Regions from separate parts of the Homo sapiens genome. Here region 2 is linked to region 1. Evidence: fine-mapped expression QTL. Tissue or cell type: subcutaneous fat. Region 1 holds a variant in brackets; the other region holds the start of a gene. All regions are shown on one strand. Distances are between the middles of the regions. Region 1 has its middle 31 kb from the start of SMIM38. Region 2 holds the start of SMIM38 (small integral membrane protein 38).

The links. PIP is the estimated chance that this variant, and not a neighbour inherited with it, causes the effect.
Region 2: it holds the start of SMIM38, and the variant in region 1 is fine-mapped to the expression of SMIM38 in subcutaneous fat (GTEx, PIP 0.99). The same link has a PIP of 0.9 or more in visceral fat.

What each region holds. Positions count from the first base shown.
Region 1 is chr11:69,116,886-69,132,962 of GRCh38, reverse strand. No RefSeq gene overlaps it. Among named protein-coding and RNA genes, the nearest start is that of SMIM38, 31 kb to the left of the region's middle. RefSeq lists enhancers at 9,353-10,168, 9,888-10,182, 11,940-12,568 and a silencer at 9,888-10,182. The variant G/A (reference allele first, on the strand shown) is at 8,736.
Region 2 is chr11:69,148,509-69,164,585 of GRCh38, reverse strand. It overlaps SMIM38 (small integral membrane protein 38), which reads right to left and starts at 8,651. Exons shown (of 3, transcript NM_001369201.2): 1 at 8,472-8,651; 2 at 5,235-7,412; 3 at 2,146-5,140. The coding sequence starts at 6,739. The coding sequence ends at 6,584. The region is part of intron 2 of LOC338694 (a long non-coding RNA gene); the gene reads left to right. RefSeq lists silencers at 6,926-7,285, 10,531-10,825 and enhancers at 8,170-9,097, 15,376-15,875.

The DNA.
Region 1 (16,077 bases):
CTGGGGTGGGGGCAGGCGTTGACGGCCAAGGGGCAGCATTGAGGGACTTCTGGGAGACAGCGCTGTACTATGCCTGGACTACAGTGGTCGTTGCACGATTGTGTCTTTGTCAGAAGTCACCAAACTGTAAAAAGAGCCACTTTTGCTGTGTGCTAATTATGGCTCAATAACACTCCACCCAAAAAAAAAAAAAATCACTTCACTCTCCTCATCATTGAAAGTAATGACATTGAAGGAAGAGGAGCAACACTCTTTACGTGGCAGAAATGGTGCTGAACAACCAAGGAGCTGCATTCCCTGTGGTCAGGTACCCAGGGGGCCCTGGGTTCTCTCCATTTTACAGATGAGTAAACGGAGGTCTGGAGGTGCCAGGTCACCCAGTGCCACCCAGGGAGGCTGGAATGGAGTTGGGACTTCCACCCAGGCCTGACTGCAGCATCACCCCCCAAACCACTAAGGCTGTCCTGAGAGAGACCTTGGGGATCAGCAAGCCAGCCTCCTCCTCCCGTTTTCCGGAGGAAAGCATGAGGCTTCAGGGGGCCCGACCCATCCAGGCTCACGAAGAGAGGGACAGAATCAGAATCTGGAGGGAGCCAGGTCTCATTTGTCAGCAAACGCCTTCCTACGACAACCTTGGGAATAGAAAAGACCCCAAGACATGACAGGAACGAGATCCGAGGCCACGTGCAACACAGGTGCACCAGGGTAAGCCCCGCCCCTACCCTCAGGGAGCTTCCAGCCCCATCTGGCACAAGGTCACCTCCCAGACCCTGGGCAAGTGGCAGCCCAGACACACCCAGGAGTACAAACACCTCTCCACAGTCCCCTCCTGGGACACTGGGCCCCTGAGGATGATGGAAGCTGCGGGTTCCCCATGGGGGCTCTGGGGTTACAGCAGGGAGGGAGGGGGACCCATGACATGCCTTAGGCCTGTCCAGGAGGGATTCCAGCCCCAGGGAGAAGGCAAAGACAGGAACGCCGTTTCCAAGCCGGAGAAGCAGTGAGAGTCCACACCGCGTTTCCCGGTCTGCAGGGAAAGGCAACAGCTGGTGGGTGGGTCAGAAACCAGACCTTTCTGGGCTGGCTTCAGGACCTCTACACCCCACCTCGGTTCTGACCAACAGTTATGGGAGTCAGAAAATGCAAGTGCTCAGCTCTTTAGCCCAGGAATTCCCAGCCAGCAGGCAAAGCCCTCGGGAACACACGTGCAAGATGCCCCACCTAGAGGCAGGAATGTGGCTGAGGCATTTGCACCATTAGGCAGGTCTGAATACCTGAGGAGGAGAGCTGCTCCCTCAGCGCTTCCCACCCTAGCTTCCCATCATGGCTGGGCCACCTACCAGCTTCTCTGTGCCTCAGTTTCCTCATCTGGGAATTGTGGATTGCAATCCTATCTACACCCCAGTCTCTAATGGAGATAGTGTATGCAAAGTACATCTACGTAGGCCTGACACACAGCTAGTAGCCGTGTGGCAGCCAGCCCAGGGTTGTTCTTGGGAACATGGGACAGCCCACTGCCTGGAAATTTGGTGGCTCTAGGATTGGCCAGACATCTTCTGTGGAAAACCAGGCGGCCCATGCTAAGACACGGTGGCCCATCGAGATATCGCAGTCTGGGAACCTTTCCGGGCCACCCCTGGGCAGCTCGGACAGTGCCAGGGACCTTGGCCAGCTCATGCCTAGAGGCTCCCCTGCCAGGCTGCCTGCACCCTCCTCGAGCAAGGCCTGGCCTAGATGCACAGACACCCAGAGGGAAGGGGCTCCGGGACAGCAGAGGTTGGGGACAGCCTTCTGAGCCTCTGTTTAGGACCAGCACGATGCTAAGAGGACCTCCAGGACAAGAGCCGGCAGGGACCACAAGCCAACAGGCCTCTGACATCACCAGGCCTCCAAAGTCAGGAATAGATAAAATACATCGAAACACGGTCACAGGGGAACACAATGCTGGGGAGGACACCCTCTGAAGGAAGGAGGGCTCGGCTCTTTTGAAACATGGATGGAAAACTCCAGAAGACAGATATCCTTATTTATGAGGTGCCCCGATCCCTGAGCAGGCAGTAGAACCGGCCAGCCCTCGAGGCCCCCCACTGAGCTTCTGCAAGCTGCATTTCCTGGGCTTCTGCAAGCTGCATTTCCTGGGCTTCTGCAAGCTGCATTTCCTGGGCTTCTGCAAGCTGCATTTCCTGAGCTTCTGCAAGCTGCATTTCCTGGGCTTCTGCAAGCTGCATTTCCTGGGATCGGATAGCACTTCCTCCCCGACTCCCTGGGAGCATCCTCTACAGTGGGGAGCCTGAGTTAACAGAGGCGGCCGCTGAGGCTTATGGAAGTCATGTTCCCTCTCAAGGCCACACAGCCAGACATGGCAGAGCCAGGACTGGAACGTAAGATTCTGATTCCAGTGCTCCATCTCTTTCCCTGGCCCGCCTCCCTGCACATGCAGATTCCACCTACCTAGCAAACCCCCACACCCACTCTCATCACGCCATCAAGGCCCCCACCCAGGAATGGCAAGGTTCATCACCTTGAAGGAACACTTAGATTCCTTCTTCCATTTAAAAAAATTATTTTATTATTATTATTATTATTATTGAGACAGGGTCTTACTCTGTCATCCAGGCTGGAGTGCAGCAGCACAATCTCAGCTCACTGCGGCCTTGAACCTCCCAGGGTTCAAGCAATTCTCCCATCTCAGCCTCCCTAGTAGCCAGGACCACAGGCATACACCACCACACCTGGCTAATTTTTGTATTTTTTGTAGAGAGATGGTCTCACTATGCTGCCCAGGCTGGTCTCAAACTCCTGGCCACATGTGATCCACCTGCCTAGCCCTCCCAAAGTGCTGAGACTGCAGGTATAAGCCACTGCACCCTGCAAAGAATTCTATTGATCTAACTATGCCGGAGTAGAGACAGATCAATATTATACATTGTATTATTTCCTGGGCCCGCCATAACCAATTACCACAGGTGGCTCAGAATTGTGGGAATTATTCTCTCACAGCTCTGGAGGCAGAAATCCAAACTCAAGGTGTCGGCTGGGCTGGGTCCGCTGAAGGCTCTCAGGGAGGGTCCTTCCTTGCCCCTGCCAGCTTCTGCTGGTTCCTGGCGTTCCCTGGCTTATGGCCGCATCCCCCCAACCTCTGCTTCCATCGGCACATGGTCTTCCCGGCCTGTGTCTCTGGATCTCTTCTTCTTATGAGGATACCAGCCATGGGGTCAGGGCCCACCCTGCTCCAGAACTACCCCCTCTTCACTTGACTACATCTGCAAAGACCCTATCTCCAAAGAAGGTCATATTCTGAGGCTCCAAGTGGATGTGAATTTTGTGGGGATTTTTTTTTTAGTTAACACATAATAACGTACATATTCATAGGGCACATGTGATATTTCAATACATGTATATGATCCCATTTCAACAAGTAACGATCACAGCAGGTGACTGGTATGTCCATCGCCGCAAACATGTATCTCTTCTTTACGTTGGGAACATTCTGATTCTTCTCTTCTAGCTATTTTGAAATATATAATAAATTATTAACTGTAGTCCCCCTACTGTGCCATAGAACACTAGAGCTCATTCCTTCTGCCCAACTGTAATTTTGTACCCATTTACCAATCTCTCCCTATTCCCCTCTCCCCGTCACCCTTCCCATTCCCTGGTCCCCAGGCTCATCCACTTTTCCTCAAATGACAGAATTGCATTCTTTTTTATGGCCGTATAGTATTCCATTATGTATTTGCACTTCATTTTCTTTATGCATTCATCCATTGATGGGCACATAGGTTGATTCCATCTCTTAGCTATTGTGACTACCACTACAGTGAGAATGTGGGTGCAGATGTCTCTTTCACATGCTGATCTCCTAGTCTTTGTATACATACCCACTAGCAGAATTGCTGGGTCATATGGTAGTTCTGCTTTTAATTTTTGGAGGAATTTCCATACTGTTGTCCATAATGGCTGCACTATTCTAAATTCCCACTAAGAGTGTATAAGAGTTACTTTTCCCTGTATCCTCACCAGCATTTGTTGTTTGGTTGTTTTTGTCTTTTTGATAATTTTATTTCTATTTTAAGTGGGATGAGATATCTCACTGTGGTTTTGTTTTCTGTTTTTTGTTTTTGTTTTTGTTTTTGTGATGAAGTCTCGCTCTGTCACCCAGGCTGGAGTGCACTGCCACGATCTCCACTCACTGCAACCTCCACCTCCTGGGTTCAAGCAATCCTTCCACCTCAGCTGGAATTACAGGCATGCATGACAATGCCCAGCTATTTTGTGTATTTTTAGTAGAGACAGGTTTCACCATGTTGGCCAGGCTGGTCTCAAACTCCTGACCTCAAGTGATCCACTCGCCTCGGCCTCCCAAAGTACTGGGATTACAGGTGTAAGCCACCACGCCCAGCCCTCATTGTGGTTTTAATTTACATTTCTCTGATGATCAGTGATGTTGAGCATTTTTTTCATATACTTGTTGGCCCTTTGTATGTCTTCTTTTGAGAAATGTCTATTTAGAATACTTGCCCATTTTTAAATCTTATTTGGATTTTTTGCTGTTGAGTTGTTCAAGTTCTTTATATGCTTTTGTTGCCAGGGCTTTTGAAATCTCAGCCATAAAATCTTTGCCCAGACCAATAGCCTGAAGTGTTTCCCCTATGCTTTCTTCTAGTAGTTTCATAATAAGTCTTTAATCCATTTTGAGCTTTTTGTGTGTATCGTGTAAGGTATGGGTCCAACTTCATTCTTTTGCATGTGAATATCCAGTTTTTCCAGCACCATTTATTAGAAACTGTCCTTTCCCCAACACATGTTCTTGGTGCCTTTGTTGAAAATCAAGTGGCTATTAATGCATGGATTTGCATCTGGACCCTCTATTGTGGTCCATGTGTCTATGTGTCTGTTTTTAGCCAGTACCATGCTGTTTTGGTTACTATAGCTTTGTAGTATATTTTGAAGTCAGGTAGTGTGATGCCTCCAGTTTTGTTCTTTTAGCACCAGATTGCTTTGGCTATTGGGGTGTTTTGTGGTTCCATATGACTTTCAGGATTGTTTTTTTTCTATTTCTGTGAAGAATGTCATTGCTATTTTGATAGGGATTGCACTGAATCTGTAGATCACTTTAGGTCATATGTGGGGACATTATTAACCATCATTTCTTCAACCTAAAAGTTCATTTCTTTCTTTTGATTTTAAAAGACATTAAAACATCACTGTGGGTCCCTGCAAGTATCATGGGCCCAGGCGCAGTGTGTCCTGGAGGTGCCACCCCATCTCCATCCACCCCAGCACCTGGCACATTCTCCCGGCACACAGTAGGTGCGCACCAGGCTGCCTTCCTGCAGGGGTCCCAGCAGCTAGAGAGAGGTCAGCTCGCCTGTGCTTTCTGCTCCCCCTCCCCAGTTATCACCTGTGCCTCCTCCTGGGTGCTGGGTGGATAATGTTCTTTGCTGTAATCTGCTCCTTCCGAGGGTGCCTTCCCACTGGCCGCCCTGCACAAACAGCCCCACTCTGGCTGCCACCCGCCCGGCTCCAGACTCCTGATATGAATGCAAAGGTTAGATATTCTTGACACCGCTTTAATTTTTCAAATAGCAAGCCAGTTACCAAGCACGTTGGCACCTGGGCTCGGTTCCCCCACGACTTGGCAGGGCCCACGCAAGCTGCTGGCAGTGATGGATGCATGCCCCTCGGCACACCCCCCCCCCACCCACCCACCCGGCCGCAGCCACGCCAGCCCCAGGACCTCACGCAGCCAGTCCCCGGCAGCTGTAAGGCCCGAGTGCCAAGACACAGAGTGGGCTTTTCCAAGCGCCGGGATCCGGCTGGGCGGGCTTCCCAGCACGGCCTCTGGGAAATGTGTGCAAGGCCTCCGTCAATCTGTAGGGACTAAGCTGCTAGGAGGGCCTGGGGCTGAGCGATTTCATGTTTTTTCCCACCCACCTGGCCTCACCCTCCCTCAGCCTCCTCGCCAAAACAAAATCACTTTAAAAATAAAAAGTAACAGGCAATGCAGAGGCTCTCAGAGCTGGATGGAACTTAGCCATCAGAGGGTCCCATTCACTCATGGTACAGTTGGAGACACTGAAGCTGCAACCAGGAGGCTGAACAGCCAAGACTAGAGCCAGGGTTTTGGCTATCAGAGGGGACAGTCGCTCAGCAGTTCTCAGGAGCATGCGAGCCAGGCAGCCGGTCCGATTCCTAGCTCTGCCACTCGTGAGCTCTGCAACTCCGGGCAAATCTCTTCACCTCTCTGTGCCTCAGTCTCCCCATCCACAGAGTACAACCCACACAGGACCTGCCTCTCAGGCTATTGTCAGGACGACGGTGTCATCAGCATATGGGGAGAGGTGGGCCTCAAGCAAGGCTGGACAGTCGCCGCATGGGGTACAGAACCCTGGAATGGTAGGGTCCCTGAGGAAGGTCAGAGTCAGACCCCTGCGGCAGGTGAGACACAAAGGCCATTCCGGACCGCACTCCACAGTGAGGCCAGCACCCGCATCCATGCACCAGGCCACCAAGAAGGGCCGTCTGTCCGCCAGGCACCGTCTGGTGCTGCTAGGTCTCTGGGAAGGACTCCAGCTCCTGACTTATGGGCACTGGCAAGTACTAGGTAGACAGACTGGAGCTCGAGGGGACATCAGAGCCCTCTGGACAGGCCCAGAGAGGGGCTGCATGTGGCCCAAAGCACCCAGCCCAAGGACTCAGACCCCACCAGGTTGTGTGCCCTCCTCAACCTCATAGCAGATAGGGCTCTGAGGCAAAGCCCCTCCCCTGCCTGCCTCCCTTTTGAGAAGCCTGAAGCCCCATCTGATCAGCCCTCGAATGTCCACTAAATGCCTCTAAACAGGAGGTGGGGTTCAGCCTCTCACAGACAAGTGTGCCTGAGAGCCTCAGGTGAGCCAGGGGCCACTCAGCAGAGGCACAGGCTGGAGGGACAGGGCCCTGGACAGGTGCAGTTTGATGAGGGTAGAAGGACACAGATGACGCCTGGGCCAGCGTCACCCACACACCAGCCCCTGGCCACACAGCTGCTGATCACTCTGTACATGGCTGGTGAGACTCATAAACTGTGGGGGTTTTTTTTAAATATATTTAATTTTAATTATTTTACATTTAAAAACTGAAGCAATAATTGGATTATTTGTAACTCAGAGGATAAATGTTTGTGGGATGGATACCCCATTCCCCAGGACGTGCTGATTTCACACTGCATGCCTGTATCCAAACATCTCATGGACCCCACAGGTACATACACCTACTACAGACCTGCAGAAAAATTCATTAAATTTAATTTTTAAAAACTGAAGCCATGTGGGCCAGGCGCAGTGGCCCACGCCTGTGATCCCAACACTTTGGGAGGCCAAGGCAGGCAGATCACTAGGTCAGGAGTTCGAGACCAGCCTGACCAACATAGTGAAACCCTGTCTCTACTAAAAACACAAAAATTAGCTGGGCGTGGTGGTGTGCACCTGTAATCCCAGCTACTCAGGAGGCTGAGGCAGGAGAATCGCTTGAACCCGGGAGGTGGAGGTTGTAGTGAGCCAAGATTGTGCCACTGCACTCCAGCCTAAGCGACAGAGTGATACTCCTTCTCAAAAAAAAAAAATTAAAAATACTGAAGCCATGTGAAATAGCCTCTTGTTCAACACAACTTTATTGTCTAGGTAGGACATTCAACATGTAGTGTCTGAAGTAAGAGGTGCTCTCAATGTAAGTACCAGGTTTTTAAGACTAGTACATACAAAAGAATGCAAAATATCCCAATAATTTTGATTATGTGCTGTTTCAATATTTTGGATGGATTGGGTTAAATAAAATGTGATTAAAATTCATTTCACCAGTTTCTTTTTACCTTTTTAATGTGGCTACTCAAAAATTGTAAATTATCTCTGTGGTTCGCATGACAAATGCTGCCCAACTTACGATGGGGTTACGTTCCAGCAAACCCATCCACTGAATCAAACGCATTGAATCCACCTGAACATCATAGCGCAGCCTGGCCCACCCTATGTGTGCCCAGATCACTGCCATTAGCCTACAATTGGGCAAAATCATCTAACACAAAGCCTGCTTTATAATAAGATGTTTACTATTTCATGGAATTTACTGATGTTCTACTGAACGCATATGGCTTTCACACCATTGTGAAGTCAAGAGATCCTTAAGCTGCATCCTAAGTTGGGAGCCATCTGTCTACAGCTGACCCTTAAACAACACGGGTTTCAACCTATAGGCAGGTTTTCTTCCACCTCTACCACCCCTGAGGCACAAAGACCAACCTCTCCTCCCACTCCTCCTCCTCCTTCCTACCCCTCCTCCTCTGACTTAGCCTCTTTGATGTAAGATGACAAGGATGGAAACCTTTATGATGATCCACTTCCACTTACTGAATAGTAAATATATTTCTCTTCTTTATGATTTTCTTAATAACATGTTCTTACTTTATTGTAAGAACACAGCATGTAATACATGTAACATACAAAATATCTGTCCATCAACTGTTGATGTTATCAGTGAGGCTTCTGGTCAACAGTCGACTATTCGTAGTTCAGTTTTGGAGGAGTCGAAAGTTACATGCAGGTTTTCACTGCATGGGGGAGGGGGTCGCAACCCTAACACGTGCATTGTTCAAGGGGAAACTGCGTGTCTGTTGGGCCCCAGTGTTTTGGGGCCTTTGCTGATTTGCTCCTTTTGAACTCGCCAGTAAAGGTGGTAATAAACGTAGCAGAACCCTCGCC[G/A]GCCCTCCCGAGCACCAGTCTGGGAGCTAAGCTTACATTCTCCAGCTGCCCTCAATGCCCCCGCATTCCGACAAGATAGGATCCATTGATCCCTATCCGGGCCCAGAGAGATGGAGTAACTTGCCCAGGTCACACAGCAAGGCCTTGGGGGACCTCATATCTACAGGCCTGAGGTGGAGGCCCTGGGAGGGCGCCTGGTCTCCTCTCCTCCCTCCAGCTCCTCAGCCACATTCTGCCCTGGATTTTCTCGGGGATTGGGGGCCTTTCTCAGTTCCTAAAACCAACAGTGAATCCAACCCCAGGAGCGCCTCCTCTGGCCGCTGTCTACTGGAACCAGGGGAGGAGAGAAGTGAGACCAGAGACTGCAGACCTTGAAGGCTAGAACAGGGAAGGGGGAAGTGGGCCAGCGGGGAGGGTCGTGGCGGGGGCACCCAGGGGTACAAAGGTACTTAGCCCCTGCAAGGGCCAGGAGGGAGGGCAGGGGGAAGTAGGAGGACCCCACCCGTCGCCCACTCAGCAAAGGACTCTTGGGCACCTGGCGCGCACTCACCACCATGCTCAGTGTTGGGTGCAGTGGTGGGTGGGGCCTCAACCTCACAGAGCTGGCATTCGGCGGCAGGGACAGGTGCTGACCACCCTAATGGTCAAGCGGAATGCTTGCAGGGTGCAAGGTCACAAAGTTCTGGGTTCAAACTCTAGCTGGGCCCCACTATGTGACCCTGGGCTACCGTGGGCTGCAGCCCGCTGGCGTGAGGAGAGACCTCAAAGGTGCAGGGAACTCTGGGGCTTCCCCCACCACGGGTAGAGGAGATTCAGAGGTCTCCGCAGAGCGCACAGAAAAGCCAGCTCTGCCCCAGCCCCCTCCCCGCCCTCACACCCAGCCTGAGCACTTCCTTCACTCCCTGGATCAAGGCTGCATGCAAGATGTCACCGGCTCACTGGCTCTGCAACCTACGTCTCTGCAAACCACTGATGCCGCCCACTCCCGCCTCTCACAGGGAGCTGACTCGATTTGCCCGAGGTCCCTGAGCTGGCAGGAACAGATCAGAGTGTTCTGGCTCCCCTCCCCCCGCCCCCCCGCCATGGGTCTAGCAGATTAAAAGAAAACTTCCCCAGGAAGGCTGCAGAGACACACCCAGCCCTGTTTCTGAGATCACAGGCGAGGAGCCCAGAGGCAGGGACAGAATGACAAATGCTTCTTAGGGGACCCAAATGCCTCCCGTTCTGGGTACAGAGTGCTGCCCTATTATCCACCAATGCAGAGAGCACTGCTGCAGGGCGAGGGCTCCGGAATGTTTGCAGGACGCATAGCAGAGCTGTGAGTCAGCCGAGGCAGGGAGGAGGCCGCACAGCAGGGCGGGCAGGTGGGGAGCCGGGCGTGAGGTCAAACCCTCCATGCAGAACTAGGGTAAACAATGGCCCAGGACCAGCCCTTGGGCGGCATTCTCCATGGCCCAGCCCAGGTAACATCGGAACTGTGCCCAAGAGGAGGAAAGGCACTCGCCAGGAGGGAAGCCATTTGCCCTGGGTCCTGCCGGGATTTGGGGCCAAGATTCTGGACTCCCAGCACAGTGCTCTCTCTTGGCCAAGCGCTGCCTGGGCATGGCTGTCCCTGGATATAAATGAAACCTTGTAGATTTGAAGAGTATTCTAGCCGCCCCGGAAGGCTGGCTGCTCAGAGGTGCTGTCTCACGATGGGATCATATACGCAGACATGGGGCCCTACCTCAAACTGGCCGTGCGACCTGGGGCAAGCCACTTATGGGTCTGAGTCCCAGATGCCCCACCTGGAAAAGGGACAGGAATTCCTACCACCCCAGGCACATGTACAGTTCCAATGAGATAAGAACCGAAGCACCCGCTGTGTGCCAGGCACTGGGTAGGGGCTTTTCACGTGGTATCTGTTGTCTGTGCTGTACCCTCTCCACGTTAGGGAGGCAGAAACTGGCATGTGGAGAGGCCAGCTTGCCGTCGGCCACACTCTGAGGATGTGGCAAGGCCAGAATCTGCAGGTTCATGCCCTCTGCAGTGCAGTGCCTCCAGCAGGCTCCCAGAGGGCATGGGACCCTCCGCCCCAACCCGCCTGTGAGCCCCTCAGAGCCTGGGAAGACACGTGCGGGTGCAGCTGCAGGGAGGGCAGGGCTGATCCAAAGGCTCCTTGGGGTGGGGAAGGATGGCTGAGCCGGGATCCACTTTCCACATGGGTCCTGAGCACACTGCTCTTCACTCCAAGTTCTCGGCCACTTGGGATCACGCTCTTCTTTAATTCTCCAAGCAATGCCTCCCACTGCCCTCGGAGCAGTACACTCCACCAGGGGCCTCCCCAGAGTCCCTGGGGATCGGGCTGAGACAGATGGGCAGGGGCTTGACTCCCTCCGAGCTGCCCTCCGCCAGCTGCCTCCACTCCTGTTCTCAGGCCCACCTTGCCCCCTGCCCCTCACTGGGCACCCCAGGGTCATGGTGGGGGCAGGCGGTCCCAAAGGCCTAGGCTCTGGATGACTTGCATTGAATAACGTTCCACTGCTCCCAGGACCCCCGTGCAGGGTAGCACTGTCTCCCTCTCTCCAGCACCTCTGCCTGGCTCCCACGGCCCTCCCCCCCGACCAAAACCACCAATTCCGAGCCTCAATGATACAGAGTGGTCCAGCCAACCTTTCACCAGCTACCCAAAAATCCCAGGGGAGGTAGTCAGCTGGGCTTGATGACAGCCACCCCAGCCCTGGGGGAGCCACTCCCAGGCAGGACACCTCCTGCCTCTCAGGTCATACCCCTTCCTAGATGCCCACATCTGTATGATGGGGATGAGAAAATCTTCTCTTTATGGAAGAAAATCTACAGAGAGCCCTGAGCAGGAGCCTGGCATGGATATAACACGCACCCAACAGCTGCTGCCACTTCCTTCCCTGGGAGGGCCTTCTGCAGCTCGGCGCCCTCAGCCTGTGCGTGGCTTTGCCCCCTGCACATTTGGTAAGTGAAGCTCAAGGCTGAGACCAAAGGCACACAGGGGCGTGTGCATGCTTGAGTCTTATGGGTACGTGCTGTGTGCCTGTGTGCATGCATGCCCAGGCAGGTACGTGTGTGTGGGTGTGCAGAAACATGTACGTGTGTGCATGCATGCCCAGGCAGGTACGTGTGTGTGGGTGTGCAGAAACATGTATCTGTGTGTGTTGTGTGCAGAAGCATGTACATGTGTGTTGGTGTGCAGAAGCATGTATGTGTGTGTGCATGTTTGTATAGATGTGTTGTGCCTGTGTGTGCATGTGGGCAAGTATATGTGTGGCTCACATAAGAAAGTTCCTTAAATTATAACACCTTGGAGTATGTCACACTTATTGCTGCCATGATTATAGCAGTGGTCACTTTTGGGTGCCTGGTGAGTGCCCAGCTAAGCACTTGCCCGGTGAGGGTCCCAGCCAGGATTGAATTCCAGCCTTCGTGACTGCAGACGGGCACCCCCCACCTGCACCTGGCATGTCAGGGACCTAGCACACAGGAGCGTGTGACCACCTGACCCAAGAGCTCTGCAGCAAAGGGCCCAAGCCCATTTGCTGGATCCTGAGCCGCTATTGCGGCTGGACTCTCACACGTGACCTGTGCACCCGACCTGTTTGCCACATGGCACCAGGCCCTTTCTGACCGCACCCCCCTCTCGTCCCAGCCAGCAGGCATCAGCAGGACCCTGGGAAAGCAACAGTGATGTAGTCAGGGCCACCTCCTCATCTCCTGCTCCATGCTAAAGAGAGAGCCAGACCAAGACTGGAGGTCTCTAGGAGGGACAAATAGAGCCACCAAGTCCTCGCAGAGGAGCAGCCCCTGCATGCTGCTGTGAGCGTGGGGTACCCCACCTCCTCACACCAGCCCCACCAGCAGGAGGTCGACGGCCACGTTCTACAGGTGAGGAAACTGAAGCGCAATGTGGACCCTGCCTGAGGTTACCCAGCTAACATGCTGCAGCCGCGGTGCGAAGCCAGCCGTGGCTTCCATTCAGACATGCTACTCCAAGGAGACCCCCAGACCTCCCCAGCAAGGCTGCCCTCTCTCCCCACCCTGCTTCCCCAGGGGGCTGAGTCTCTGATCCCATGAGAATGCAAGCCACAAGGATAGGACTTGGTCTGTTCTGTCCCCTGCGGTGCCCCAGCACTGTGAGGTGTGCTTGGCTCATGGAAGGTGTTCAGAAAGTGCTGAATGAATGGATGAGTGTGTGAGTGAATGAATGAATGGGCTGCTTCAGTCTCGGCTCAGAGTCAGGGTCCTGAGGTCATTTGCGGGTTGGAATCTTCATTCCACATTGGGTCGCACAGCCTTATGCAAAAGTCACTTTACCCCTTGGCTACTCCACCCGTAAAATAGTGACAGAGCTACTACAGGGGCTGGTGGTGGGATTACAGGGGTGAGGCCAGTGCTGGGCACAGTGGTACTGGCTGCCACTCTCCCCATCTGGATCTCAGGCCTTCAAAGCCAGTTTGTCCCTAGTGCCCTAACTCCAGAGGTTCCTCCAGAGTATCTCTCCCAAGAAACCCATGGTTGGTATCCAGGCCCCTGAGAAGCACCTGAGCTGCCCTCCTCATGTGTGTTAAGTCCATCCACTTAACTTTGGGGAGAGGCCACCCAAATCCTCACGTTCTGAGAGACAAGAGTCTTTGCCAAATGTATCAGTCAGGATGAAATTTGACCCCACGTAAATTTCCTATCATGTAAAAGAAGTCCAGGGATAGGCAGTCTAAGGCACCAAGAAGTCAACAGGAACCAAGCTTCCTTCCAACTAATTCACCACTCCCAGGGTGTGGCTCTCAACCTCATAGTCTAAGATGGCTGCAAGAGCTCCAGCCATCACATCCACATTCCAAGCAGCAAGGAATGTGGAAGGGAGAAAGGAGGTGTGCCTAATTCCCTGGAAGGAGACTTCCTAGAAGACCCACGCTGCTCACATCTCATTGGCCAGAACTGAGTCACACACTCAGTGGTAGAGCATGACAGTAATGACCCCTAATTTATTCACACTCCCTCATATGACTGTTTGACAATGTCACTCCTCCCACCAGGAGATGAAGTTTATTTCTCCACCCCTGAATCTGGACTTGGCCTGTGACTTGCTTTGTCCAAAGGGACGAAGCAAACAGGATGCAAGCAGAGGCTGGAAAAGCTTTTGTGCATGCAGGCTGCTATGTCGGTACCGGGACCTCCCGCCAGCACATGAGCAAGGCCGGGCTGATCTCCTGAGGATGAATGAGCACATAGGGAGAGCATCGCTGTCCCAGCAGAGGCCCCCAACATGGGAGAGAGGCCATCCCCAACCATCCAGCCACAGCCAGGCCAGCCCGGATCAGAAATCTTGCTTAGCCAACTCACAGAACCTGGAGAAATAATGAACCCTCGCTGTTTTAAGCCACAATGTTTTGAGGTGGTTTGTTACACTGCAAAAGCTAGCTGATACACTTCTCCAGCAACAGGGAGGCTAGGCAATGCAGCCTACTCAATGGACCACAAAGCTCCTACACTGGATTTTTGAGTCTAAAGGGAAAGGAAGTAGGCCCAGTGGCTCACGCCTGTAATCCCAGCTACTGAAGAGTCTGAGTTCAGAGGATCACTTGAGGCCAGGAGTTTGAGACCAACCTGGGCCACACAGCAAGACCTTGTCTCCAGCAAAAACAAAAAAATTGTTTTAATTAGCCAGATGTGGTGGCTCATGCCTGTAGTCCCACCTACTCAGGCAGCTGAGGCAGGAGGCTCACTTGAGCCCAGGAGTTTGAGGTTTGCCAGGCTGGAGTGCAGTGACAAAATCATTGCTTAAGCTATGATGCTGCCACTGCACTCCAGCCTGAGTGACAGAGCAAGACCCATCCCCAAAAAAATAAGTAATTAGGCCAGATGCAGTGACTTATGTCTGTAGTCCCAGGGCTTTGGTAGGCCAAGGCGGGCAGATCACTTGAGCCCAGGAGTTTGATACCAGCCTGGGCTACATGGTGAAACCCAATCTCTACAAAAAATACAAAAATCAGCCAGAGGTGGTGGCATGTGCCTATAGTACTAGTACAGTCTAGGCACTGGACTATACTATAGCAGTAGTCCCAGCTACTTGGGAGGCTGAGGTAGGAGGATCACTTGGGCCTCGGAGGTCGAGGCTGCAGTGAGCCATGATTGCACCACTGCATTCCAACCTGGGTAACAACGCCAGACCCTGTCTCATAAATAAATAAATAAATAAATAAATAAATAAATAAATAAATGGAAGGAGAAAGTGAACATAGGACCCAAGCTCAGTAGCCCCCACCACACCCAATTCCTGCTCTGGCCTTGCCCCCAAGAGTGCAGAAGAGAGGCATGGTAGTCCTCCCCTTGCTCCGAATTTCTGTTCCTGTATCACCGTGATGCCAGGCCATTTCAGGAAGGGGCTCTGAGCCAGCCATGCTGAGGTCTCACCACCATCTCTCTGTGGGTGACCAGTCACACAGGATCTCTTCCTCAGATGGTCTTCCCTGTGGTCTCCCCACAAAGCATCCTCCATCCTAGACTCACTGCTGCCCCAGCTCCTGCACTCAGCTGTCCCCAGAAGCCTGAGCCAGGCACCCTTCGTGCCCCACACACCCACCACCTATGTCCAGCCGCTCGGGCAGCCCGGGGCAGCCATGCCTGTGACGTTCAATACCCAACTCCTGGAGTCATGTAACGCCCAGAGGGACAGAGACAGAGGCCCTTCTCGCTCCCCTTCCCCAGCGCCTCGCTCAGGGCTGAGCACAGGATGGATGCAAAGAACAGGGAAACTCCACGGAAGGAGTTCCTGAAGTTTCTAAGGACACTTTCCGTACAGTTCAGGAGGGGACGCTGCACTGTCCCTGATGCTCACCACGGTCTGTCCCTCCTGTCCTAACCACGCTCCCCGTACAGCTCAGGAAGATAACACTGCACTACCCTGATGCTCACCACGTCTCTCCCTTCTGTATTCTTCAGGCTCCAAAACGCTTTCACATTCTCTCTCTCAGCCTTCAAAGTAACACTACCTAGGGCTATACCAGGCGACATTATTCAGCTTTACAGAGGAAAAAACTCTGATCCCCAGGATAAACGATAAATGGCTGCTCATCCCAAAAGACGTGGCCATATTTGATTATTCTGAGTCATCCCAACCTGACACAAGGTACCCTTGGGGACAGGGGGGCAGACAGAACACCCTGGGAAGCCCCCAGGTGGCTTCCATGTGACGAGAATTGGTAAACTGAGGGCTGTGTTGGGGTTTGCCCCGTGGGCCGGGTGCCCTGGGCAGCCCAGGCCTGGCAATAACTCACCCTGAGCTACCTCAGTTTACCTGGCTGTGAAATGGACTGGGAAGACCAGGTCAGGGGTC
Region 2 (16,077 bases), 32 kb before region 1:
CCCCGGCCACAGCCCCTCCAACGAGGCTGTTCCTCTAGCTTATCTAGGCCTCCTAGTCTCAGCAACATGGCAAAGCCACCAGCTTCCCCTGCAGGTCACCTGGGCCCCCAGGCCAAACACCAGCTTTGTGTGGGCTTCTCCACCAGCCTCGACACTGTCAGGGTCTCGTGTCCATAATAAATCTTGTCTACAGCACCCATGGCGATTGCACATGAAAACAGACTAAAGGAAATCACTGTGAGCCCTAACTTGATCACCCACAGTGGCCAACCATGTTTCTGCTCTTTATGTTGCTCTTATAAATGGGGTCTTTCATGCTTCTCATCTAGTGGATTGCTGTGTGTATGGTTTCTCTGTATTGATCTAGACCCACTCACTTGACTGAATTCTGGTATTAGCATTTGCAATTGCTTCTGGTTGACTCTCTTCCATTTTCCAAGAAAATCATCCATCTCTCTGTAAATAATGATTTTCCTTCCCAGTGTTTGCACCTCTGATTTCTTCCTCTTTTCTAATTGTTTTTCTAATACCCAACCATCCTTGCATTTCTGGAATCCATTCCGCTCAGTTGTTGCAATGATTTACTCCCCTAATGTGCTGCTTAATTCAGGGACTTAATATTTTTACATCAATGTTCCCAAACAACACTGGTGTGTGTTTTCTCTTTCCATGCCATCTATGATGGATCTTGGCATCAATGATATGCTTGTTACATAAAAAGAAGTTAAAAATATTCCTTCTTTTATGCTTTAGAACAGTTTAAATAGTGTTTAATTACCTGTTCGTTTTTGGTGTGGTTGGATCCTCCTATAAAACATTCTAGGCCTGATGCTTTTTTTTTTTTTTTTTAAGGAAAGTCGACTTTGACAACTTTCTATTTCTTCTATGGTAATCAATTTGTTTAGACTTTACATCTCTTTTGGAGTCTTTTTTAAAATAAATTATATTTTCTATGTTTTCAAAGTCTCAAAATCTTTTATGTATCCCAGTGCCAGTTTCCTGTGGTTATTTGCCATTTTATGTCTCTGCGGTTGTTTTCCCCATAGACTTTTATTTCATTTATGTTTTCTTCTTTTTTCTTGATAGGATTGACTAACAGCATCCTTTTTTATGCCCCTGAAAAATCTGGCACTTGGGTACATTTGTTAATTCTATTGCTTCTTAATGCATATATTTCCTCTCTTATCTTTATTTCTTCCTTCTGTTTTTCTTAGTTTTTTCTATTATGTTCAATATATTGAGCCATATGCCTAATCCATATGTTTTCATTCTTTCTATTGGTTAATATGAATATTTAAGGCTATAACTTTCCCTTCAAGAATTGCTTTAGCTGCATCTCATAGGTTCTGGTTTGCAGTCCAAACATTATCACTCAACCCATTTATGCCTAGTGTTCCATTATTGGAATGCTGAGCATGTGGGAGTTATTTATATATCCTACTGCTCAAGGTCATCACCAAGGTCTGATTGCAAAAATTTAAAAAACGGCAACCTCAGGCATAAATGGACTAAGAACCTCCTCCAAGAAGCTCCCTCCTGCGTTCCTGTAACACACCATGCATTCACCCGCCACCCTTTTACTGCATTATGAAGGTCCAGCACAGCACTGTCCATAACAAAAATAATATAAGCTACCTATGTGATTTTAAATTTCCTACTAGCCATATTAAGACCTATTAAAAGGAATAGGTGAATCAACCTAAATGCCCATCAATGGTAGACTGGATAAGGAAAAAGTGGTACATATACACCATGGGATACTATTCAGCCATAAAAAAGAATAAGATCATGTCCTTTGCAGGAACATGGGTGGAGCTGGAGGCCATTGTCCATAGCAAACTAACACAGGAACAGACAACCAAATACCACATGTTCTCACTTGTGAGAACACATGGTCACATAAAGGGGAACAACAAACACTGGGGCCTACTTGAGGGTGGAAGGTGGGAGGAGGGAGAGGATCAGATAAAATAATTCTTGGGTACTAAGTTTAGTACTCAGGTGACAAAGAATCTGTACACCAAACCCCCATGAGTTTACCTGTATAACAAACATGCACATGTACCACTGAATCTAAAATAAAAGTTAAAAGTTAAATAAAATATCATGGCCAATAAGTAATGAAAATAAAAGAAACAGGCGAAATCAAATTTAATATTTTATTTAACCCAATCTGTCCAAAATAGTATTATTTCAATGCGTAATCAATATAAAACCATTACTAATGAGATTTTACATTATTTTTCTGTGCCAAGTCTTCAATAGCCAGTACGCATTTTACTTACATCATATCGCAATTTGTGGTGGCATTTTTACTGTTCAATAACCACACATGCTTAGTGCAGGTCTAATATCTGTTTCCAGGTCTCTCTGCCCACTACCCTTACCTCCCTGACTGCAAGCTACCTGAGGGCAGGTGCTTTGCCTTATTCAACATTGTATCTGTGGTGCCTTGAATACTGCAAGCACTCAATGAATGCTTGCTGACTGCTTGCAGACAGGGTGGCTCAAACAGCAGACATCTATGTTCTCACAGTTTTGAAGGGTGGAGTCGGCTGGTTCTTCCTGAGTCCTCTCATCTTGGCTTGTACGTGGCCATTTTCTCCCTGTGTCCTCACCTGGCTCTGTGTGTGTGTGTGTGTCTGGGTCCTAATCTCCTCCTCTGATTAGGACACCCATCCTTTGGATTAGGGCTCACCCTAATGACCTTATTTTAACTTTATTCCCTCTGTAAAGACCATATCTTCAAACACAGTCTCTTTCTGAAGTATTAGGCATTAAAGGTTCAACATATGAATTGGGGGGAAGACATTCCAGCCCTAACACTATCCTTTTATGCCTTTTATACATCTGCTGTCCATCATCATTATTCATTTATCCATCAATTCTTCACTGTCTCCGTTCCATGGGCTACGGTTTACATCTGTGGCTACCAGCTGTGAGCAGAGGCATGTTCCCATGTGTCTCTAAGAAGGAGCATGTCTGTCTCAGCCTTGGACTTCCTTATTAAAACATTTTCTTAGGAGGCCCCAAGGAGCCATGGGGAGCCATGGAAATCTCCAACCTCTGACTCCAGATTGGAGCAGCCAAGGACAGCTTGACTCAGCTGCTATTCCTGAAGGGCAGACAACAGCAAAACCAGCACATAAGGGTACCACAAAGGTGCCCAAATATCCAAAATAGGGTCCAAGACAAAGACCATCATTACAAAGAATGGCCAAGGGGCCCGTGGCAGAGACCACCCAGTTGCCTGCCTGATCGCCATTTTGCCTCTGTTTCTTTATAACAAACTTGGCATTCAGGATGGCTAGGAGACCAGCTAACAAACGCCACTATCTCTCAGCCTCCTGTGCATCCAGGGATGCCACGTGACATCATTCTGGCTTATGAGATGGAAAACTAAGGGTATCTGGGGACATTGCTTTCTGTCTCTGTCACCCTTTCCTTTCTCTTCCTGCCTGGAACTCGTGTAAGATGCCTGCAGTAGCAGCAGGTTTCTTGTAGCCGTGAAGATCAAATCTACATGCTGAGGGTAGCAGAGCAGAAATATGTCAGGGTCTGAGACCCTGATAACTTCACAAAGCTGTCACGCCACAGCCTGGGAATGCCAAATGCCAGACTTCTTGCTACGTGAAGAAAGAAAAACAAAATACTTTTAAAGCCTCTCTTTTTTAAGCCACTGTTTGTCTACGTGTCTGTTACCTGCAGCTGAATGCATCTGCTGCCTGAGATACGGCCAGGGCACACCCTCTCATTCATTCAGATGCCATGGCCTGATTGCCTGTTCTGAGCCAGGCACTGCGTCACAAGGCTGGAGATGCTGACACGTGGATGCAGAATACATGAATTCATCAGAATTGTGTCCATTTTCCAGGAACAGAAACCAATGAAACAGACTTAAGAAAAAGAAAAGAAATTATGGACCAGTGTAACTGAGATAGGGAGTCGGAGGAGGTTGGCAGAATCTTCCCTTCCACCATTTTTCCAGGTGGCTGTGTTCTCATGGGGCCGCCTTGAGCGTCTGTCCTCCCTGCCAGGCAGTCCCAGTAGAGGAGTCTGTTCTGACCCCTGGCTCCAGCAGAAGTCCCAGGATTCTGAGGCCGGGCATGGTAGCTCATGCCTGTAACCCCAGCATTTCGGGAGGCCAAGGCAGGCAGATCACTTGAGGTCAGGAGTTCAAGACCAGCCTGGCCAATATAGTGAAACACCATCTCTACTAAAAAATACAAAAATCAGCAGGGCGTGGTGGCACACGCCTATAATCCCAGCTACTCGGGAGGCTGAGGCAGGAGAATTGCTTGAGCCCCAGAGGCGGAGGTTGCAGTGAGCCAAGATTGCGCCACTGCCCTCCAGCCTGGGTGACAGAGTGAGATTCCATCTCAAAAAAAAAAAAAAAAAAGATGATGAAGTCCCAGGATTCTGGCTCACTGGACCAAGAGGTGACCTCAGGTATGTGTGTAGGTGCCATCCTACACACCCATGTGGACACGCAGGCCACACACAGGTTTACACAAAACTCTACAACTGGCAAGACATCGGCACATCATATGAATGTCTAACTCCTTCTATCCAGCGTGACCTGGTTTGCCCAGGACTGAGGGGTTTTCCAGGACATCGAACTTTCCATTTTAAAAACAAGACAGCCCTGGGCAACCCGGAACAGCTGGCCCTCCTAGCTCTGTCGGTACATGCTCATGACAACCATGTGATTTTTCTTCCTTAAAGAGATCAATGAAATGGTACCAGATCATGTTTTTAAAAAGCGAACAATATTTTCCTTAGAGATCAATGAGAATATCCCTCCCCACAATCCTACGATCAGGCGAGAATATTCAGGCAGAGCCCTGGGCTGCCGGTGGAGGTGGCAAATTGTCCGTGACACGGGGGAGTGACCATAGAGTTCTGCTGGCCTCTGGCTGATACAACAGAGGCCAAACTGAAATGGAGCACGGTAGCCCCTGCCCCTGTGCAGACTTCAGAGCGTGAATGAGAAGGGACCCTCTGCAATAGGTCATCTTCACGTCACCCCCTGGACACCTCAAACTCTTGGTCGGTCCCACCCCAGATGGTCTCGGCTCCTGCTCACCAGCACCCCCGTGTCTGTAGCTCTCTTGAATGGAGGATCTGAGCACAGCAAGTCCTGTAGAAACCAAAAAAAAAAAAAAAATTTCCTTGGCATAGGTGAGTGTATCGGGTGCCGCAGAAACAGTGATAACAGCGTTTCTGGTCCTCACCTGGGTTCATTCAGCCAGGACACAGCAAGGCAGAGGCTCCCAGCCAGTGCCCCACTCCATGCCCACCCTGGGGGTCCACTCGTCCCAGTCAGCAACACCAGCCCTGGAACCACCATCTAAGCTCCTGCTCTTGCTGGACGCCCCCAAGTCCTTTCAGAATTCACAGGAATCACCCCCTCTGCGAGCTTCGTGTTCAGAGGACTTGGCCCACGTTCCCTGAGCGAGCATCCCTAGCATACCCATCACCTCTCAGGGAGCAAGACGTTGCCACATCACCAGGCCCAGCCTCCCAGAGACGATATCTGGTTCGATGCTCCTCCCTGGAGCTGCCGCCCACAGTCCCTTCCATCTCACAGTTCCGCATGCAGTCAGCAGCCCTCGCTGCAATCCACGATCTGCTGGAACGATCCCAGGAAATACAGTGTGGAACTTGGACATGGGTGTTTGCCGAATTTCCCCCAAGAGGCTCGAATGTGGAGCCTTTGAGCTTCCCCAAGCTGTGGGTTAAGTCACTGGCATCACGGCTAACGTGCTACGGAGGTGGAGCAGGAGCACTGGATGCTTGGCCTCAAATCAACTTCCCTGCCCTGTCAGCCTTCCTGGGCACTTCCCAGCCACACACTTGCAGGAACAGATGAACAGAGGGCATTGATGGGTGCCTTGGCTTGTCCCCTAAATTGTCCCCTACATGATATCCTGCTGAGGGAGGGAGGCAGGGATCATTGTGCCCTAACTGTTCAGACCGTTAGAGAGTGTGCAGAGGGTCAACCAGAGCCAAGTGCGTCTGGCTTGTCAACTCAGCCTCACAAGTGCGTCCTGAGACCCTTCCCAGGGGTCTGCTCTGGAGAAATCAGGACAGCCATCGGCACTTATCTCGTCCCTTGGGAGGCAGGAGGAGACTAGTTATGAGGGTGGTGAGCTGAGACAGGACGTGGCCTTTGGTAACAGGGCCAGCTTGTGATGAGGTCACATTTGTCTCTGTGGCACCTCCACCTGAGTCCTCTGGCTTACCCAGCTCTTCCTGCAGGCATATTTATAAGGAATTGGAGGCAGAGAAGGTCTTAAAGCAAGACCCACCCCCAGGACCACTCCCTGCAACCGGGGACCCCAGAACCTGGTGATGGACCTGCAAGGCCGGCCCCTCCATCTCCCCACATGGCCAGCTGCCTCTACGGGACAGCCCTGGTCAGTCTGGGAAGGCACGATCCATCTCAGGCCTCTCTGAGCTCCTGCCCCAGGGGTGGGACATGGGGATCATGCGCCTGCCCTGCTCCCCTCCCTCCCACCACCACTGGAAGGGCCGGCTGAGTCTCGGGACAGGGCGCGTGGAGGCCGCAGCCTGCAGAGGCTTAGTCCTGCTTGGGTTTCTGGGGCCGCCGCTGGGCCAGTCTGTAGTCGATGTAGGTCCCGAGGCAGGACCACAGGATGAGGCGTGCTAGCAGGATCACCACCAGCAGGGCCAGGAGCGGGTCAGGGCCAAAGCTGCCACCTGGCCAGGAGGTCATGCCTGAAGTCAGCCCCAAAGGGCAGCAGCAGCCTCTGCCCTGGAACCGAGATGCAGTGGGGCCCTGCCACCCTAGCCCGGCACTGCCAAGTGGCTGCTGTGCAGACCCAGGACAGGAAGCTCCGTCCAGCCTGGGGCCTCTGCAGCCGGCGCCCCCAAGGGACCGCCCTGTTCTCTCTGGTGCCACCAAGCAGGCCAGATCTGCCCGCCAGACTCCAGCCCGGGGCCTCCCTGGCATGTGAGAGGACAGACTGGGGACGACGAGCAGCCTCCTTGGTCAAGAGGCCCGTGTACCATTCATCCAGAATTAACCACTCTCCGTGCTGACAATGACAGCATTGTCCAGGGGCCTGGGGGGCGGGAGGCCGCCGGGAGCCCGCCCCCCTCGCTGTCCCCGCGCCCCCTGCTCGCCAGCGCTGACGTAATCTGCAAACATCCCCGGCGGCAGCTGCTGGGCGAAGCGGCCACCTCCTCCCGACGCTTTCAGCAGCCCACGCGGCTCTTCCGGCCCCGCCAGACAATTGGGCCCTTTCTCTCCCCAATTAGCTATCACTTCTGGAGGCCGCGCCGTCCAGCGCCGGCCCACGGTCTCCGCAGCAGCAGGCCCGGGATGGGGCGGGGGCCGGGAAGCTTGGCAGGGAGGCTGGGGCCACCACGGGGAAGAAGGACGGAGCCTGAGGATGAAAAGCCAAGGAGAAAAGGGGAGAAGATGAGGACAGGCGGCCACAGCCCACAGGCGGCCCCAAACACAGCTCAGCAGCACAAGGACCGCGCTCTGGGCCTCTGATGGCAAGGGGGTCAGCGCGGGAAACCGGCTTCATCCCCCAGGAAGGGGACCGGTGGACCCCCAGCAGCACCTCCCTCCAGCTCGCCCCTCCAACCTCCATCAAGAAGCCTTAGGTGGGACCTGTAGCCCTAAGCTGGGGCGCACAGGCCTGCAGGGTCCCCTGACATCCTCACAGTCACCCTGGACCGGAGGCCAGTCCTGCCTTCTACTAGCTGAGTGACCTCGGGCAAGTTGTGCAACCTCTCAGAGCCGCAGATCCTGCCTTAGAAAGTGAAGCAAATACCTCCTGCTTTGAAGGATTAGGGGAGAGAGCACTTCTCAGGGGCCACGCCCAGCGCCTGGGCACAGAGATCCTGGCCCCTGCCTCTCAGTGGATGCCTTCAGAAAGGCCTCCACATCTTTTCTGAAATAACAGTGTCTGCCCAGCCTTCTCTGACTGCCACACGCGCGCACACACACACACACACACGCATACACATGTATACATGTGTGTGCACACAGACTCACACGTGTGCACACCCAATAAGGACACATTGACCTCTACAGGCTCTGCCCCCCAAGTCCAGCTCTGGCCTCTCACAGCCGAGTTTCTGTGAGTGAGAGATAAACCGCCAGAACTGCCCCCTCTAACTCCAAGCCTACATCCTGTAAAGCAAAGGGGCCCCAGTTGGAGCTAGGGGGCTGAGCGTGAGGAACAGAGGTCTCTGGCGGCTGGGTCCTGGGAGTCCGGCCAGTTCTCACCAGCAAATGTCCAGCCTGAGCTACAGAGAACAGCAATGGGGGCCTTCCTGGCCACAGGGATCTGGGGCCCATCGCTGGTCGCCGGAAGCCAGCTCTTCAGTTCCTTCCCAGTCTACAAAATGAGTGTCCTCCCTGCCAAGCCTTTCCAGAAGGTTCAAACGGGACCACACGTTCAAACGGGAAGTGGAGCATGATGCCAACTCACCTTGGGCCGGGCACCGCCTAAGCTGCCTTCCCGCAGCCACCCTGGAGCCCCTGCCTGGACTGGCAGAGGCTGTCTGGGAAGCATGCCTGGCCCTTCCTCCATCTGTGGTGTGCCCTGCACCCACTGGGCTGCCTGGCACTGCTGTCAAAGGCCACTCACTTAGGGAACGTTGAGCTCTGGGCTTGTTTTCCACGCGCAGCGGTTTGAAGATCACTTCGAACGTGGGTGGGGAGTTAGCTCTCTGGACCCCGTCATAGAGTAAGTCATCGATAGAGCATTTGCTTGATGGGGACTTCCAGAAGGCCAGGGAAAGTCCTGCCGACTTCCTGGGGAAGCCCATCCGCACGTGGGGTGAGGGTCCCCAGATGGGAGCAGCTGTGTATGCAGGGAGGGGGCAGAGGCTGCTGCCAATGGGCATGTCCCTTACCTGAAAGGGCCACCTCTCCAGGTGACATGTCCTGGGGGAGCCGGGGCCGTCTGCTCCGGCCAGAGGCGCTCAGCTCAGGCCACACCAGGCAGGGCACCTCCCAACCTGGACAGGTGGGGACCAAGGTGGCCTTGGACAAAACTCTCTGTGTTTGCCAAGCACCCAATCGGACACAGAGAGTCAACCACACCCCAGTCACATGGTGTCCACACGCAGGGGTCAAGGAGGCCCGGCCCCTCCCCCTCAGACGTCCCTGGGCCTCTGGGAGTCAGCAAGGACGAGGACGGCATGCCCTTCGAGACAGGAAGGGAGTGACCTCCTCCCAGCGGCATCCAGGCTCGGCTTCTCCGGAGAGGAGAGGGGGCTACTTGCTGGATAAAGCGGCCGGGGCCACAGAGAAAAAGCAAGTGACCATGAGCACGTTGCAGACACAGTGCACCGACAGCATTGCAGCACGGGGACTGTGAGACCTCCCATTCTCGGGGGAAACTCCCCAAGTCCCCCCACCATCAGCAGTGATGTGACTGGGGCGGCGACCTGTGCTGGGAGCCTCCACCAGCTCCTGCGCCTCAGGCCCTGCTGCCCTGCACCTTCGCTTCCAGTAGGACCCTTCTCCAGGGCATTCTGGGCCACAGGAGCCACCCCAGTGCACAGAGACCCGAAGGCCCAGGAAGTTCCCTCCCCCAGGCAGCCCTTAACCTAAGGCTGACCTGGGCAGGACGTAGCCCAGCTTCCCTGCTTTGGACCAGGACAAACTAGAGGCCACTCTGAACCCCCAGAGCTCCCCCTGAAAATCCCAGGGACGTGCGGCTGTGCCTGGAGTCGCCCCCTTCCCAGACTGCTCCCCTTCATCTTGCCCTCCCTGCTCCTCCCTCCTGTGTCTCCCCATCACACCACCCCCCGAGTTACCCGCCTGTGAATATAATCCAGGATAAGAGTGACGAGCGCCTCATCAGCGCAGACCCAGACCCCGCCAATGGGAACGCATGGAGCTGGGCGGTGGTGGCTCCCAGCCCCGGGCCTCTGAGGATGGATCCGGGGATGCTCCCAGCCCCGGGCCTCTGAGGATGGATCCGGGGATGCTCCCAGCCCCGGGCCTCTGAGGATGGATCTGGGGATGCAAGTTGCCATCGGGACCTCAAAGAGCCAAGGCATCTTCCTGCACCCAAATGTTCAACGCTGACAGAGCAGTGAGTGACGCACCCTCACTCACTGTTTCCTGATGAAATGCTTGGCAGAGGAAACCTCTCCACAGGTGAGCTCCGTGGGGAAGGCCTGGAGTGGAAGTAACAAGGAGGTGCAAGTTCTTGCCCCCAAAGCCTGGTCCCCGCCCAGGACCAGCCCTCAGTACAGGTGACAGCCTGGGACAGAGCCCCAAGAACCTTGTGAACAGCTTCCTGTGAGCCCCAGGCAAGCTGGTCTCCACTGAAGCATCACTGGGCCTCAGTTTCCTCCCCTCAATAAAAGGGGAAAATAATCCTAGCACTTTGGGAGGCCGACGTGAGAAGGTTCAGGAGTTCGAGGCCAACCTGGGCAACATGACAAAACCCCATCTCTACAAAAAAAAAAAAAATACAAAAATTAGCTGGATGTGGTGGTGCACACTCGTTGTCCCACCTAGCTAGGAGGCTGAGGCAGGAGGATCACTTGAACCTGGGAGGCAGAGGTTGCAGTGAGCCATGATCAAGCTACTGTACTCCAGCCTGGGCAACACCTTATCTCAAAAAAAAAAAAAAAAAAAAAAAACGGTGAGGGGATGATAATCCCTTCCCAGCTTCTGCAAGCAAGGCTGGGGATAAGAGTGCTTTGCAGGGGAAATCCCCGCCCAAATGTCATCGAGATGAGCTGGACTTGGCTGACTCAAATGCAGGACCCAGGAATAATACTGAACGCCCTCCCCCAGGGACCACCAGGCACATCCCCCAGGGCCTCAGTGTGTTGGTTGGTTTTGTTATTTTCATAGCACCAACATCCTCTGAACTCTTCCATGTGTTTCTAGAACTCGAGCTCTCGCCGAATCCCCCAGGACTTAGCACAGTTCCAGGCACCCAGAAGACTCTCAGCAAGGACGGCCACGTGCATTGGAGCTGGGAGGCCAAATTAAAAGAAGCACGTGTTTTCCTTAGAACAGATTCCGCCAAAATTGTAAAACCACCACCTACAGCCTTGTTGACAGTGAGACATTCTCAGACATGTCAGGGTCCTGTTGAAAATCATTTTTTTCTTTGTTTCTTTTTGCAACAGCAAAATATGCTTGCTTTAACCAAAAAAAAAAAAAAAAGCAACCATGGCAGAGATGGGTGAGTTGGGAGAGCATGAACATCATCAACTCTTACTCCTGCCAAGACGGAGCACAGGACATGAGGACCCCGTCCAGGGCCCACGGGGAGCCTGAGTTCCCACCCCACGAAGGCCTGTGGCCCATCACCTCTTCCCCTGAGAATGCTGCATCTCAAAACCCCAGCCGGCGCAGGCTGCCGAAATCAACAGAACATGCATTTCAAACCGGGTTTCCACTGAAATGCTCCCTACACACAGACGGGCGAAAATTAATTTTCTTTCTTCCTGCGCCACAAAAGCAGATTAAAATCACGAACAGTGGGACGAGTGGGGGGAAGTGGAGGGCTTCCTCATTGAGGGAGACCCCTGCCCGGGAGGTTTCTCTCCCTAACAAGGGATGGCCTCAGCCGTTTGAAACGCCCTGCTGCAGGCATAAAGCCCGACCCAGGAGAAGGCACTTGAGAAAAAGGACGCCGCTGCCCTCCCAACGGTTGAAAGCTGGTATGTAACTTTGCTCGGGGTGATCAAACAGCTAGTCAAGGACGCTGTCAGGAACAGAATGAAATTCCAAATAAATTAGCCATGTCCAGAAGCCAATACAACACCGGATTAAGGCTCACAAAGAAAACACAATTTATTCAGCCTACCTTGTCAGAATTCTTAATAACCCCCCTTCCTTTCCCTCACCTCAGGCTGAGAGTCCCTGGGTGTGAAGAGACAAAGTGAACCCCACTCGGGACGCTGGGCGTCTGGTGTAGACGCTGGGCATCCAGTAGATGCGCTGGATGTCTGGTGGAGCATAAGCGTTTACAAAATCGTGTTTTTAGGAACATTTCAGCGGGGGCCATACACAATCGCGTAGGGAAGGCAAGCTGTCCCCAAGTCCCACTCACATCTGAATGAGCGGGTTCATACATTAGAATACAGGAGGAGGCGGGCAGAGACAGGAATATTAACCATTTCAGCTTAACTCTTTGGGGTTTTAGTAGCATCCCTGCCGTCGCCTCAAATGAAGTGTGTTCTGGCGGAGGTGCCTGAAAGCTCTGTCTTCATTTGCACATGATTTTATCTTTTAAGGCAACAAGTAGGTGAATGGTAACTATCACCCTTTGCAAATCCTAACTGTCCTCCGTGACAACTCATTAATATATTCAGCAGCCCTAAAGACAATATCTTTTTTTTTTTTTTTATCAATGAACCCAGACGACTTTCGCAGCCAACAAACGTTCTTTGAAAGAGTTAATAGGCAGAGGTTTGTGTGCGGACTCTGGAGCAGGCATCTTTGAAGGGTCCCGGGCCTCCTCCTTGTCTTAGGCTGTGATGATGTATCTGGTTTGCCCAAAGGCCTCAGTGAGAGTATGGGGCCCTTTCTTTGTCCCCAGAGAGGGGGGTGGAGGGGCCGGGGACGGGGAGTTTGCTCTGCAGCACCGAGCCATTTGCAAGAGATAAAGCCGACAGGGAATTTGAAGGGGAGTTGGGAGGAAGTGATTGGGCCATTACTCTGAGACGGAATGTCAAGATGCTTGAGAAATACACAAAATAAAGATTTTCCCAGAAATTCTTTTAAAAGAGATGACCTAATGGTATTAAATTAAAAAAAAAAAAGATAAAAGAATTGTGCTAAGCTTGGGGAAATCTCTGCCATTTCCCAAGCCTAGATTCTCTCTTGATTTCTAAATAAAACAAGAAGGCAAACAGTGGGGACAAAGACAGGGAGACATGTTTGAGGCCTGCCATGTGCACACAAAATGATTTTTGCGAGAGTGGGCAGGAGTGTGCCTTGGAACAGGACCCCAGCCCAAGGACAATGGGCATGAGAACCCCATGATGCTCCAGGGCTCTGAAAGTGGAACTGAGCTACTGGGAGGTGCCCTGTAGTCACCAAGTATGTGCCACAAGGAAAATCTCCTGTCACCTTAGAAAGGCTGTGGTCTCCTTTAAGTTCCATATAGATTCTGGATATTAGACCTTGGTCGGATACATAGTTTGCAAAAATTTTCTACCATTCTCTAGGGTGTCTGTTTACTCTGTTGATACTTTCTTTTGCTGTGCAGAAGCTCTTCAGTTTAAGTAGATCCCATTTGTCAATTTCTGCTTTTGTTGCAATTGCTTTTGGCATCTTCATCATGATATCTTTGCCCATGCCTATGTCCTGAAAGGCTTGCCTAGGTTGTCTTCCAGGGTTTTTATAGTTTGGGGCTTTCCATTTAAGTATTTAATCCCTCTTGAGTTAATTTTTGTATATGGTGTAAGGAAGGGGTCCAGTTTTAATGTTCTGCATATGGCTAGCCAGTTATCCCAGCACCATTTATTGAATAAAGAATCCTTCCCCATTGCTTTTTTTGTCAGTTTTGTCGAAGATCAGATAATTGTAGGTGTGTGGTCTTATTTCTGGGTTCTCTATTCTGTTCCATTGCTCCATGTGTCTGTTTTTGTACCAGTACCATACTGTTTTGGTCACTGTAGCCTGGTAGTATAGTTCAAAGCCGAGTAGAGTGATGCCTCCGGCTTTTTTCTTTTTGCTTAGGAACAACCCTATTAAAAAGTGGCCAAAGGACATGAACAGACAGTTTTCAAAAGAAGACATACATGAAGCCAACAATCATATGAATAAAAGCTGAACGTCACTGATCATTAGACAAATGCAAGTCAAAACCACAATGAGATACCATCTCACACCAATCAGAATGGCTATTATTAAAAAGTCAAAAAAAAAAAAAAAAACCAGCAGATACTAGTGAGGCTCTGGAGAGAAAGGAACACTTATAAACTGTTGGTGTGAGTGTAAATTAGCTCAACCATCGTGAAAGACAGTGTGGCAATTCCTCAAAGACCAAAGAGAGAAATACCATTTGACCCAGCAATCCCATTACAAGGTATATACTCAAAGGAATATAAATCATTCTATTATAAAGATACCTGCACATGTACATTCATTGCAACACTATTCACAATAGCAAAGACACGGAATCAACCTAAATGCCCATCAATGGAGAAAGAAGTTGTGGCACATATATATCATGGAATACTACACAGCCATAAAAAGGAATGACAACACATCCCTTGCAGGGACATGGATGGAGCAATAGGCCATTATCCGTAGCAAACTAATGCAGGAAGAGAAAACCCAGTACTGCATGTTCTCACTTATAAGTGGGAGCTAAATGATGAGAACACATGAACACAAAGAGGGGAACAGACACTAGGGCCGTTTAGAAGTTGGAGGATGGGAGGGAAGGAGGGAGAGGATCAGGAAAAATAACTAATGGGTACTAGGCTTAATACCTGGGTGATGAAATAATCTGTACAACAAACCCCCATGACACAAGTTTACCTATGTAACAGACCTGCTCATGTACCCCTGAATTTAAAATAAAAGTTAAAAAAAAAAAAAACAGAGAGAGAGAAAGAAATGCTGTGGTCTCACAGCCACCCTGAGCGACATGTGTTCAGAGCCTCCCAGAGACTCCATTGTCAGTGGGTGACAGTGTTCACTTACCAGGAAGAGGAGGCTGCTCAGGCTAACCCAGCCATGACCCCCGCTGGAGGCTAGCTCTGGCACATCCTCTGGCTGGAGGCTAGCCCAGGCGTGACCCCTGGCTTCAGACTAGCTGGGGCTTGTCCTGTGGCTAGCTGCTAGCCTAGGCATTGAGAGGTGAAGCCAGCTGGACTTCCTGGGTCGAGTGGGGACTTGGAGAACTTTTCTGTCTAGCTAAAGGTTTGTAAATGCACCAATCAGCACTCTGTAAAAATGCACCAATCAGCGCTCTGTGTCTAGCTAAAGGTTTGTAAATGCACCAATGAGCACTCTGTAAAAACGCACCAATCAGTGCTCTGTGTCTAGCTTAAGGTTTGTAATTGCACCAATCAGCACTCTGTAAAAACGGACCAATCAGTGCTTTGTAAAATGGACCAATCAGCAGGACGTGGGGGTGCCAAATAAGGGACTAAAAGCTGGCCACCAAAGCCAGCAGCGGCAACCCACTCGGGTCCCCTTCCATGCTGTGGAAGCTTTGTTCTTTCGCTCTTCATGATAAACCTTGCTGCTGCTCACTCTTTGGGTCCACACTGCCTTTATGAGCTGTAACACTCACCACGAGGGTCTGTGGCTTCATTCCTGAAGTCAGCGAGACCATGAACCCACTGGGAGGAACAACCAACTCCCACGTGCCACCTTCAAGAACTGTAACACTCACTGCGAAGATCTGTGGCTTCACTCCTGAAGTCAGCAAGACCACAAACCCACCAGAAGAAAGAAACTCCGGACACATCTGAACATCTGAAGGAACAAGCTCCAGACACACTATCTTTAAGAACTGTAACACTCACCGCGAGCGTCTGCGGCTTCATTCTTGAAGTCAGGGAGACCAAGAATCCACCGGAAGAAACCAATTCCAAACACAGCATGACCCCCGTTGGAGGCTAGCTTGGGCCCATCCCGTGGCTGGAGGCTAGCCCAGGTACATCCCCCGGCTGGGGGCTAGGTCAGGCACATCCCCTGGAACCTCACCAGGAAGCACAGTGGCCACCTCTCCTTCTAAGGCACTGGGTCTCTCTGCCTGACTTCTTCCACCTTCTCTTTCTCTCTGCTCATTGGCTCCCTCTGCTCTGCCTGAGCCTAAAGGCACTGTCAGCCTCACCCATAAATAAGTCCAGCACCCACACTTTGCTGCTGGCCTCCCAGCCCCAGGCTCCCGAGAGAGAATCAGAAGAGCTCAGCAGCCCCTGCATTGGTTCCACAGGCAAAGTCCAAGCTTGACCAACCCGCTGAGGGCTGAGGTACACACATGACTGTGGGCGCTCCAAGAAGGCAGACGAGAAGCAGAGCACATGTGGCCGGCCCCCACCTCTAACCTATTTGCACACACACGTGCAACACATTTCCAAGTCCCGCTGAAC